Linked DNA regions of Homo sapiens: regions 2, 3 and 4 are each reported to be linked to region 1. Evidence: microRNA targets listed by miRTarBase, many of them from high-throughput screens and not tested one by one. Region 1 holds a microRNA gene; each other region holds the end of a gene's coding sequence.
What was found. Region 1 holds the annotated microRNA hsa-miR-548at-3p (CAAAACCGCAGUAACUUUUGU, at 1,644-1,664, opposite strand). A microRNA usually pairs through its seed, bases 2 to 8, with sites in the 3' UTR of a target mRNA and lowers its output. Matches are read on the target gene's strand: a 7mer-m8 pairs with bases 2 to 8, a 7mer-A1 pairs with bases 2 to 7 and ends in A, and an 8mer does both.

Region 2: the mRNA of IL6R is a reported target of hsa-miR-548at-3p. Seed matches in the 3' UTR shown: 8mer at 1,409-1,416, 7mer-A1 at 2,231-2,237 and 7mer-m8 at 2,600-2,606.
Region 3: miRTarBase lists CDC5L as a target of hsa-miR-548at-3p. Seed matches in the 3' UTR shown: 7mer-m8 at 2,461-2,467 and 7mer-A1 at 822-828.
Region 4: miRTarBase lists RNF11 as a target of hsa-miR-548at-3p. Seed matches in the 3' UTR shown: 7mer-A1 at 2,164-2,170.

The regions. Positions count from the first base shown.
Region 1 is chr17:42,493,474-42,496,473 of GRCh38, reverse strand. MIR548AT (microRNA 548at) reads right to left here and starts at 1,701; the gene lies at 1,644-1,701. It overlaps ATP6V0A1 (ATPase H+ transporting V0 subunit a1), which reads right to left. Exons shown (of 22, transcript NM_001130021.3): 12 at 2,001-2,140; 13 at 1,286-1,440; 14 at 758-848.
Region 2 is chr1:154,464,893-154,468,072 of GRCh38, forward strand. IL6R (interleukin 6 receptor) reads left to right here. Exons shown (of 10, transcript NM_000565.4): 10 at 242-3,180. The coding sequence ends at 488. Among named protein-coding and RNA genes, the nearest start is that of TDRD10, 36 kb to the right of the region's middle. RefSeq lists an enhancer at 73-574.
Region 3 is chr6:44,446,008-44,449,216 of GRCh38, reverse strand. It overlaps CDC5L (cell division cycle 5 like), which reads right to left. Exons shown (of 16, transcript NM_001253.4): 16 at 1-2,610. The coding sequence ends at 2,506. Among named protein-coding and RNA genes, the nearest start is that of MIR4642, 12 kb to the right of the region's middle.
Region 4 is chr1:51,270,918-51,273,917 of GRCh38, reverse strand. RNF11 (ring finger protein 11) reads right to left here. Exons shown (of 3, transcript NM_014372.5): 3 at 471-2,767. The coding sequence ends at 2,596. Among named protein-coding and RNA genes, the nearest start is that of RNF11, 36 kb to the right of the region's middle.

The DNA.
Region 1 (3,000 bases):
AGACTTGATCATACTTAATTTGCCTAAGCATTTGAAAAAAAAATTAATTCTCGGATAAGTTTTTGTAAGTTCGTAAATATAAGAATGCAAGTCTAAAATCCACAGGAAAAATATATTTCTGCTTTGCTAAAATGTCTGCTAAAAATAAAAAACCAAACTAAGTAAGCAGAAATAAATTAAGAAATGGGAAGGAGTCTTGAAAAATCAATCTTCCCAGAGTCGATATTATTAACCACCTCAGAAATAAGCAGCGCAGGGAAAAGTATGTGGCTCCTCAAGGCACTTGGGTCTCTTATGGCTTAGAAGTCCTCTGAATACATACATCAAGGTTTCCCAAAAATATGTCAACGAAAACCCACATAACTATTTTTGTTTGTTTCTTTCTTTCTTTCTTTTTTTTTTTTTTTTTTTTGAGACGGAGTCTTGCTCTGTCACACAGGCTGGAGTGCAGCTTGCTCACTGCAACCTCTGCCTCCCAGGTTCAAGCGATTCTCCTGCCTCAGTCTCCCGGGTAGCTGGGACTACAGGCATGCGCCACCACGCCCGGCTAATATTTTATTTTTAGTAGAGATAGGGTTTCACCATGCTGACCTCAGGTGATCCCACCTCCTCGGCCTCCCAAAGTGCTGGGATTACAGGCATGAGCGACCATGCCCAGTGAAAGCCCACATAACTATTTATCTTCATTTTAATTCTCTTGCTTCAGGGTTAGTGTTAAAAAATTTGAGGTTAGCATATAGGAAGGAAGTCCTCTTACTGGATCAATGCCAAAAGGGTATGGTCCACCAAACACTCCAGGGAGGGCTGGGTTCAGCTGTAGAACAGGGTTCCCCCGAAGCGTCTCTTCACTACCATGACAGGGAAAAAGTCACATTATTTTTGAACAAGAGAGGGAAACAACAAGGGTCCAGAAACTGACCCCAAAATAAATTACTGTAGCTATCTTGTCTCTTCAATAAAATGGGAGGGGAAAAATAAAGAGGAGAGACTAGCAGCTGAGACTGAGGGATCCAAAATGACAAAAAGAAAAATTAAACACACAAACACACAATCAAGTAGGGAACTGGGGAATCTGGTTTTAGTTTCCAAAAAAAAAAAAAATCATTTCTAATCTTAGTTCCTGGATACTTGCTGAACAAATCACAAAGCAACTCACAGTGTGGAGCATGAATGAGGAGACACTGTCACCACTTCCTAAAGAAGTGTCAGTTTACCACTTGTCTTAAAAATCAGGGCTGCACATGAAAGGAATAAGCTTTGAATTTTAGCTTCTTCTGCAACTTACGTCCAATTATAAGTAAACATCGGCCGTACACTCCAGGATGACCCAAAGATATTAAGAGACTTGGAAAAGCAATCATTGTAGATGAGGCCAGTGTACATGGAGAACACACCCATCAATAAAATAATGTATCGACCACTGAACACAGTGCTAAACATCTGGGAACCAGAAGAAAGAAGTAATGAGAATGTACTCACTGCAGCTCACATTGTGACAATGTTATTCAGAATATACCTGCCCCTTTCTCCAGCACTACTTTACCCCATCCTGATTCAGAGAGCTTGAAGTAAAAACCAAAATACAATGCTAATGAGACAGTCACTTTCACAGGATGTGGCCTCTATTTTTTTATTAGGTTGGCACAAAAGTTACTGCGGTTTTGGCCATTTCTTTTGGCAGCCAAAACCGCAATAACTTTTGCACCAAACCTAAATAATTTTTATTTTTTTAGAGATGGGGTCTCACTATGTTGCCTATGCTGGTCTCGAATTCCTGGGCTCAAGTGATTCTCCTGCCTCAGCCTCCAAGTAGCTGGGACTACAGGCACACACTACCACTTCCAGCTTGCACATGTCGTCTTTGGTGTTAAAATGAACATAACTTCTCTACTTCCTTTTGATAAATTCATGGATAAAAGACTTCCAGATCATAATTTTCATAATGAATGCTTGGGAAATTATAAAATTTCAGTTCAATGCAGATGTAACTTAAACATTACCTCATTCTCATTCTTCTGGGAAAGGATCCGGCTCTCCCTCAGTACCATCCACACAGCAAAAAGGGTCATTAAAATGCCATGACCGAAGTCTCCAAACATCACAGCAAATAGAAAAGGGAACGTGATAATAGTATACGGAGCTATGAAGAAACCAAAAAAAGAAAAATACAAAGTACATTAAACCATAGCAATTCCACAAATATTACATTCTTTTCCATACCCACCCCCCTTTTTTTTTTTGAGATGGAGTCTTGCTCTGTCAGCCAGCAATGTCTCAATCTTGGCTCACTGCAACCTCCATCTCCCAGGTTCAAGTGATTCTCCTGCCTCAGCCTCTTGAGTAGCTGGGATTACAGGTGCCCACCACCATGCCTAGCTAAGTTTTGTATTTTTAGTAGAGACAGGGTTTCACCATGTTGCCCAGGCTGGTCTCCGACTCTGACCTCAAGTGATCCACCTGCCTCGGCCTCCCAAAGTGCTGGCATTACAGGCGTGAGCCACCGTGCCCAGGCTTCCATAATCTTAAGATCAATATAAGGTGACTTACTCCCCAGCTGCCAGACAGATAGGACTCTCAGAGAAAATCTTTCATGGCAGAATCAACACATCTTCACAAAGTAGCTAATGAAATTTGAGCTACTGATAACTTTTTTTAAAAGAGAGATGGGGTCTTTCTCTGCCACCCAGGCTGGAGTGCAGTGGTTTCATCACAGCTCACTGCAGCCTGCAACCCCTGGACTCAAGTTATCCTCCCACCTCAGCCTCCCAAACAGTTGGAACTACAAGTATGTGCCACCATGCCCAGTTAATTTTGTTTTAAAATTACTGATAAATAATATTTTTTTAGATGGAATCTCACTATTTTGCCCAAGCTAGTCCTGAACTTGTGGCCTTGAGCAATCCTCCCACCTCAGCCTCCTGAATATCCGAGATTACAGGCATGAGGCACTGTGCCTGGCAGCTCTGATAACATTTCAAACAAAGAACAGTGGAAATGAAG
Region 2 (3,180 bases), not on the chromosome of region 1:
GAGGCTGCTGTGAGCTGAGATCACGCCATAGCACTCCAGCCTGGGTAACAGAGCAAGATCCTGTCTCAAAACAAACAAATGAACAAAAAACAAAAAGACAGCTGATAGTTATTGCTCCTTTGAGCCGAAACCTGGGCGCGCCAGGCCACCAGGGCAGCCAGCTGTTGGTGTTTTCCACTGTGGGCTTGTCACAGGGGGAGCTAAAAATCTGTGTGGTTTGTCTTTGTGTGTTTGTGTGAAGGTTCAAGAAGACGTGGAAGCTGCGGGCTCTGAAGGAAGGCAAGACAAGCATGCATCCGCCGTACTCTTTGGGGCAGCTGGTCCCGGAGAGGCCTCGACCCACCCCAGTGCTTGTTCCTCTCATCTCCCCACCGGTGTCCCCCAGCAGCCTGGGGTCTGACAATACCTCGAGCCACAACCGACCAGATGCCAGGGACCCACGGAGCCCTTATGACATCAGCAATACAGACTACTTCTTCCCCAGATAGCTGGCTGGGTGGCACCAGCAGCCTGGACCCTGTGGATGATAAAACACAAACGGGCTCAGCAAAAGATGCTTCTCACTGCCATGCCAGCTTATCTCAGGGGTGTGCGGCCTTTGGCTTCACGGAAGAGCCTTGCGGAAGGTTCTACGCCAGGGGAAAATCAGCCTGCTCCAGCTGTTCAGCTGGTTGAGGTTTCAAACCTCCCTTTCCAAATGCCCAGCTTAAAGGGGCTAGAGTGAACTTGGGCCACTGTGAAGAGAACCATATCAAGACTCTTTGGACACTCACACGGACACTCAAAAGCTGGGCAGGTTGGTGGGGGCCTCGGTGTGGAGAAGCGGCTGGCAGCCCACCCCTCAACACCTCTGCACAAGCTGCACCCTCAGGCAGGTGGGATGGATTTCCAGCCAAAGCCTCCTCCAGCCGCCATGCTCCTGGCCCACTGCATCGTTTCATCTTCCAACTCAAACTCTTAAAACCCAAGTGCCTTAGCAAATTCTGTTTTTCTAGGCCTGGGGACGGCTTTTACTTAAACCGCCAAGGCTGGGGGAAGAAGCTCTCTCCTCCCTTTCTTCCCTACAGTTGAAAAACAGCTGAGGGTGAGTGGGTGAATAATACAGTATCTCAGGGCCTGGTCGTTTTCAACAGAATTATAATTAGTTCCTCATTAGCATTTTGCTAAATGTGAATGATGATCCTAGGCATTTGCTGAATACAGAGGCAACTGCATTGGCTTTGGGTTGCAGGACCTCAGGTGAGAAGCAGAGGAAGGAGAGGAGAGGGGCACAGGGTCTCTACCATCCCCTGTAGAGTGGGAGCTGAGTGGGGGATCACAGCCTCTGAAAACCAATGTTCTCTCTTCTCCACCTCCCACAAAGGAGAGCTAGCAGCAGGGAGGGCTTCTGCCATTTCTGAGATCAAAACGGTTTTACTGCAGCTTTGTTTGTTGTCAGCTGAACCTGGGTAACTAGGGAAGATAATATTAAGGAAGACAATGTGAAAAGAAAAATGAGCCTGGCAAGAATGTGTTTAAACTTGGTTTTTAAAAAACTGCTGACTGTTTTCTCTTGAGAGGGTGGAATATCCAATATTCGCTGTGTCAGCATAGAAGTAACTTACTTAGGTGTGGGGGAAGCACCATAACTTTGTTTAGCCCAAAACCAAGTCAAGTGAAAAAGGAGGAAGAGAAAAAATATTTTCCTGCCAGGCATGGTGGCCCACGCACTTCGGGAGGTCGAGGCAGGAGGATCACTTGAGTCCAGAAGTTTGAGATCAGCCTGGGCAATGTGATAAAACCCCATCTCTACAAAAAGCATAAAAATTAGCCAAGTGTGGTAGAGTGTGCCTGAAGTCCCAGATACTTGGGGGGCTGAGGTGGGAGGATCTCTTGAGCCTGGGAGGTCAAGGCTGCAGTGAGCCGAGATTGCACCACTGCACTCCAGCCTGGGTGACAGAGCAAGTGAGACCCTGTCTCAAAAAAAGAAAAAGAAAAAGAAAAAATATTTTCCCTATTAGAGAAGAGATTGTGGTTTCATTCTGTATTTTGTTTTTGTCTTAAAAAGTGGAAAAATAGCCTGCCTCTTCTCTACTCTAGGGAAAAACCAGCGTGTGACTACTCCCCCAGGTGGTTATGGAGAGGGTGTCCGGTCCCTGTCCCAGTGCCGAGAAGGAAGCCTCCCACGACTGCCCGGCAGGGTCCTAGAAATTCCCCACCCTGAAAGCCCTGAGCTTTCTGCTATCAAAGAGGTTTTAAAAAAATCCCATTTAAAAAAAATCCCTTACCTCGGTGCCTTCCTCTTTTTATTTAGTTCCTTGAGTTGATTCAGCTCTGCAAGAATTGAAGCAGGACTAAATGTCTAGTTGTAACACCATGATTAACCACTTCAGCTGACTTTTCTGTCCGAGCTTTGAAAATTCAGTGGTGTTAGTGGTTACCCAGTTAGCTCTCAAGTTATCAGGGTATTCCAGAGTGGGGATATGATTTAAATCAGCCGTGTAACCATGGACCCAATATTTACCAGACCACAAAACTTTTCTAATACTCTACCCTCTTAGAAAAACCACCACCATCACCAGACAGGTGCGAAAGGATGAAAGTGACCATGTTTTGTTTACGGTTTTCCAGGTTTAAGCTGTTACTGTCTTCAGTAAGCCGTGATTTTCATTGCTGGGCTTGTCTGTAGATTTTAGACCCTATTGCTGCTTGAGGCAACTCATCTTAGGTTGGCAAAAAGGCAGGATGGCCGGGCGCGGTGGCTCACGCCTGTAATCCTAGCACTTTGGGAGGCCAAGGTGGGAGGATTGCTTGAGCTCAGGAGTTTGAGACCAACCTGGGTAACATAGTGAGACACCATCTCTATTATGAACAATAACAGTTAAGAAAAAAAAAGGCAGGCAGGCGGTTATGGTGGTTCCCTCCCATCCCACCACATAAAGTTTCTGAGACTTGAGAACAGCAAAATGCTGTTAAAGGGAAATATTAAGAATGAGAATCTGCAGTAAGGGTGATTCTGTGCCCACAGTTCTTCAATTCTTTATACCGTTTTACCCACATGTGGTGTTACCAAAGCCGGGCAGAACCATGCTAGCGGAAGATGTGAAATCCAGATAGCTCATTATTGCCAAGAGCTAGGCAGCTTTGATCTCCAAATTGTTATTGCTTTCATTTTTATTGTAATGGAATTGCTTTGTTTTG
Region 3 (3,209 bases), not on the chromosome of region 1:
AGTTTTGAAATTTTGTAATTCCTGCCGATTTTTTTAGGCTATAAGTATGTGAATTACTTCAAATTTTGAAAACAAAGTGAGCCTTTATTAATATTAGATCAACTTTTAAATCCATATAATTCAAGTCTACAAAAAGTGCAAATAAACTATAAATCCTTTAAAATTTCTTTTAAAAATTAATCTACCTGATTCCAGGAGTGCAAAGATGATTTAATGTGGGAAAATCTATTAATATACCTCATCAAAACATCAAATGAGAACAATTATATGAATGCTTTAATAGATGCCCAAATGGTATACTGTTTAAAGTTCCAGAGCCATTTCTAATTCAAACTCTTTAAAAACTAAAAGAGAGACACTGTCTTTCAGATAAAGACTATCTAACTCCCAACAGCAAACTTAAAACTATGGACATTCCCATTAAAATAAGAAAAAAAAATGTCTAACATCATTATTGTTAACATTGTCCTAAACATTTCAGATAACAAAACATGCAATAAAAGTGAAATAAAACTATCAGAAGAAACACTATCATTATTCACTGATGATACTGAAGTTTTTCCTAGAAAACCCAGAACTTACTGAAAAAAGTATTTGAATTAAGTGACTACACACCAGGAAAATATCAATTTATCGTCTGATAAGACTATTAAGTATATACCTATCATGTCTCTCCACATATCTCCACTACTATTACCTGGACTCTAGTTAGAATCACTATTATTTTTTTGTCTGGATCACTGCATCAGGCTCCTAATTGGACTGGCTTCCCTATCTCCAGCCTGGTGAGATTTTACACACTAAGGAGATAGTGATGTTTCTAAAACCAAATCTGATCATGTCATTCCTTTGCTTAGATCTTCTCATCGATTCTTATCATATTTAAAGTAAGATCCAAATTCCTTATTATAGCCTTATTTATGTGGCTCTATACAACGAGGTCTTATATACAGAAATGCCATTCTTGACACTCTAGCTGCATTGTCCTTTTTGTTCCTCAAACATACAAAAGAGGCTTTATGTTTGCTATTCACTCCACCTAGGATGTTCTTTCCTTGAATCTCACAAGGATAGCCCATTCTAAAATGTCAATCACATGTTATCTTAAATGTTACTTCTTTAAGAGGTCTCTTTGGCCGTGCAGCTTATAGTGGTACGGTGCGGCACAGTGCAGTGGTATAGTGGTGAGCATAGCTGCCTTCCAAGAGGTCTCTTTGATCGTCCAGTCTAAAATAGCCACTCATTCACTATCTCATAATCACCCTACTTTAATTTCCTCCACAGAATCTAAAACTCATGGTCTGATACTTTCCCTGGACATACTTAGTATCTCCTCCCCACTAATGTCACCTCCATGAGAGCAAGAACTCTGTCTTAATAACTGCTTATCTCCCAACACTTAAGTGTCTGACACATAAGAATCACCAAATAAACATTTGGATTTTAATTGTCTGTCATTCTCAAAAGACTATAAGCTCTACTAAACAAGAACTAGGCCTATTTTGTTTGTTGTTCTCTCTCTAAGACTCTGGCACAGGGTATACATTCAATATCGAATGAATGAATGAATCCCTTCCCTTCCTATAGTCCCTAGTATTCTAAGACTGGGCAAACGTTTTTGGTGATGTCAAAACATTGCTAGTCTATAATGAGCTTGTAGCCAACTGATACTGTAACTAAATCAATTTATATGAATTATATAAAATTAAATATCTCCACCTCTATCCATTCCCCAAATTCTACACTGATGTAACTGACTTCTTAGGCTAAACATAGAGCTTTAAGTTTGATGGCCTTCTTGAAATTAACTTTTAAAATGCCTTTGTCAAAAAATACTTATAAGAAAATAATGGGGCAAGGAAGTTAAATCTTTTAAGCCCTGACCCATAAATTATTTAAGTAGCTGGCAGACAAGAGACCTTCTTTAAAGTGATATTAACAAAAAAAAAATTTGAGGTACTAAAAAGTTAATCTAACTTGTCAGTGTATACAGAAATGACCACTCTTTGCTGAAACTAACAAAGCCACAAAGAACTGCCTCTTAAGTGTTTAAGATACTGCATCACCATTTTGATTACCCAAGAGTTACTCATTAAATATGACACAGAGTACATAGCTGCTGGTTTGCAGGCACTCTTAAGTATCTAATTACTTCAAACAAAAGGCTACATTCTCAATTTTTTATATTTTGTTTTTATTCAAGAGTTACTCACAGGCAGCACTTTAAAATTAGGCTTTTTAAATTAAAGGCCAAAACTAAAAAAGTTTGCAAATATGACATTACTAAAAGAATGATAGCCTTAATAATTTAAACTCTAAAATGTCCGTCCTGTGGAGTTAAGGTCTTTATACACAGAATGTGTAAGATCGATATCATTTAAAATAAACAACTGAAAAACCACAGATGGTGGGTAAATTTGTCAATGAAGATAAACATCAGTTTCAGCCTTCTAGAGTATGAAAACCGGCAATTAATTAATCCTGTGACAGAATATAAACTGTACTTCAGAATTTTGACTTTAAAGTCTCTTTCTCCAGCAGCAAATCAGCATATCTATGTTGAAGTTCCTTTTCTCTTTCTTGTTGTCGCTGAACGTCTTCTTTTAGACACTTAAAGAAAAAAAATTAAGTAATTATTTTAGATGTAACTATACTGAAAAAAATCTACAGTACTTTATTATCTTAAAAACCAGCTGAGTTAAATCATGATTCTTAAGAGTTAAATATTTCTCAAAGAGAAACAAACATATCAAATACTTTTGCTATAAAACCAGTATCACAGCCATTCTTTGATTTGGTCATATGAAATCCTGCTGCTACTTCAAATAAACAAACCACTACTGTCTTATCAATACCCACAAATGCACTTCAAGAAGCCCTGACTGCCCTTTAGCTGGACAGGAGCTATTATGCACATTTGGGAGATAAATTCAATCCAAACCTGGTCATAGGAATTTGATGGTTTGGAAGGACTAGCTATGTTCCCAGCAACATAAGGTATAAAACAAAAAGATACTGGTTTAGTTTCCCCTCACTGAGCTACATGAATGGGATGCAATTAAGTTTCAAGGGGACAAATCACAAGGGCTAAGTATTCCATTTCACAGTGTATCTACATATTGGAAACAGAAAATGAGTAAGGGAAGGCCTTTGTATCTACAACTTGCCTGGTCTATCCATCTACACAGAGGCAATTCTAGATTAGAAAG
Region 4 (3,000 bases), not on the chromosome of region 1:
TGCATGAAATCATACTGTTTTATATCACATGATAAACACCAATAGCAGGGGGCGAGTCTTCTAGTACCGACTGAGGAGATTCCCTATCAAGAAACTCACAGAATTTTTTAAGTTTGTGTTAGGTAAACTACAAATATCTGAAAGTATTTCAACTTGTTAGGTTTTACACTCAAAAGGATAAGATTCTTTTGTTTCTTCCTGGTTAGGCTTTTTAGAAATTTCAAATCCCACAGCCAAGCTTGGACATATCTTGCCCATATCTAAATCAAGAGATTATAGCTATTGTTTGGTTTTAGAAACTTTGGTGCTATCAAGCCTAAGTATATGATTAAATGATATTAAATGCCAAACAATAAAAAATACTTCCCACAGGTATATATAGAGAGAGAGATTTTAAAATAATCATACACAACTTTTTAAAAGATTATATGGGGAATACTTACTTATGTAATCAACTCTAACTTTAGCCCTTCACAGCTGTATTATAACTTTATTTAACAACTTAGTAAAAGTCAAAATTGATGGTTCTTAACATTGTATGTTGAGAATATAAAGTGCCTAAAAAAGACACATTCTGCCCAATGCTAGTTCTTTCAATATTACCACCAAACTTCTGTGAAAGACTTGTAATGAAAAGAAAGACTAACTGCAACATGGAAGATGATTTTTAAAAAAGTTCATTTGCCAATTTTAACAATCTAGAAAAAAAGAAAAGTCTGACTATAATACTTGATGACACAGACATTATGTTTAAGTAGAAAACACAAGAATAAAAAAAGCAATTATCAGAAAATATTGCACAACTTCAGTTGTTTCCTCCAAATTTGCTTTATGTACTTGGGTGGATATAAATTAATAAACAGAAATTTAAGCAAGATACATGTAACAATTTAACAGAACCTGATAATCTAATTTCTTTCAATTTTTCTCAAATTCATCTTTAAGTCTTTCCATCATGGGGCTCATAAGGAAATTTAAGCAACATATGGATACTACAGTTGAATGTCAAATCTTTACAAAGTACTTATGACATACTACATTCCTCTATAATGCAATTATGAATAACCTTCATGACACTGTGTTTTGTATGTAGAAAACTGTTAGAGTTCAATATTCAACTCAATATAAAATAATAATAAGAAACACTTCTGATGTTAGGTTGAGACCACTTTTCCTTTTGCTAATGAATGATTTTTTTAGCTGTAATATCACTGAGGTGAACCAATAAGTCACCTTTGAGTACATATGAAAAAATAAACACATGCTAAATGGATAAAACATTACTACTACATCTTTACTAGACCATCTCTACCTCTAACACTTCAGAAGCTTAGAGATTTAAAGTATTCTTACATTAACTGCAAGAAACAAAGGAGAAATTCCTTCTTTTTTGAGATCACAACTATGAAGTCATATGGTTATACAAATTCTGCGTTTGTGTGCAAAACATAAAATACAATTATCTTTATTCTCCCTGCTTAGTTTTGTCAGTCAGCTAGCAGGATGTAATAGATACCTTTCCAAGAAACAGAGACTGAGATGTGTTTTGTATAACTTCAATAACCTCAGCACTACAGTAATGAGAGATGCAGTATCCTTTTGCTATGGTTCAAGACAAGAGGCAAGGAGGTCAGAAGAAAGAGAATAAATCAAAATTTTTACAACTGAGTAACTATTTCTCATTAGGTCTCACCACGGTGCCACCTTCATTTTTACATAAACGTGGTGGCATAATTCAATCTCAATAAATCAGAATTCTTAATATTTAAAATTTAACTTGACTTTCCATTATCACCATATTAACAACCAAAATAATTAGATAAAACACATAGGAAAGGGTAATATTAAACCCCACCTTAATAGAGTTGGTTTCTTGACACATTAACTTATTTTTTATAGAAAAGGGATAGTGCATCTCAGTTTGCTTACAAGCTAGGAGATCACTTTGAATTCTGCATTTCCTAACTGCAAACAGAATATAGCACTTATAACAGGTTATAAATAAACTGGTTTTCAAGCATAGAGCCAGCCCCAACGATAATAATACACTATTTAAAAAGACCTAAGGCAATGAATTCCATTTCCAATGGAAAAAAAGAACTGTGCAAACAAGCTTAAAACTACTTTTTTGTGTGTGCCAGTGTTATAAAATGTAGCTTTTAATAAAACCTTGACCCAAATGCCAGCAACTTCAGAAAAGAATTCGGGTGGGGAAGGGGAAGAGAAGAAAGTTATTTCATTTAGGAAAAATAACTACTATCTTTTTCCTAATCTTCAATACACACAATTTAAACAAATACAGCTGCTGTTAACACTTTACACAATTCCTATGTACTGGAGCAATAACAAGATCTAAATACAATTATATTTTTAAACATTGGGTCAAGGCTTTACATAAAAATACCATCCTACTTTTCCCACTAAGTTTCTAAAATATCACGTACTTTTTCCCCCAACATCTGCAGCCATCCAGGAATTTTAAGGAAACTTTTGTGCACGATCTTAATTCCTAATCCCTGGCTCTTTGGGCTCAGTGACAAAAGATCAAAACCACCAAAATGGTGGTTCACTTGAAGTCAGATAAGAGACCCTGGCTCAATTAGTCTCATAGGATGAAAGCAGTGCTGCATCAACTGGCTCCATGCAGGAGGGGCACGTGAAGGATCTCATCAACCAGTCATCTATACAGTCCAGGTGATAGATGTGCATGCACGGCAGAAATCGAATTGGGTCCCCATAAACAAAGTCCATCATACAGATCACACACCTGTTGAGAGCAATGGAGAGAAATCAGAAGGCATTTTCAGAAGTGTCCTATTCAGAAAACTCTTTAAATCCCATTAAAGACAGTGTTAATCTGAGTAACACATCAGAATGCTTTGCCTGTCATCTTATTGCCAAAGCATGCAAACTGAATTTTTTCCTAATGTTGATCTGTCCACAGTCTCTTATTTCAATCCCCTGAGAATTTGCAGGACTTAGGAGCAATCAACAGAGCAA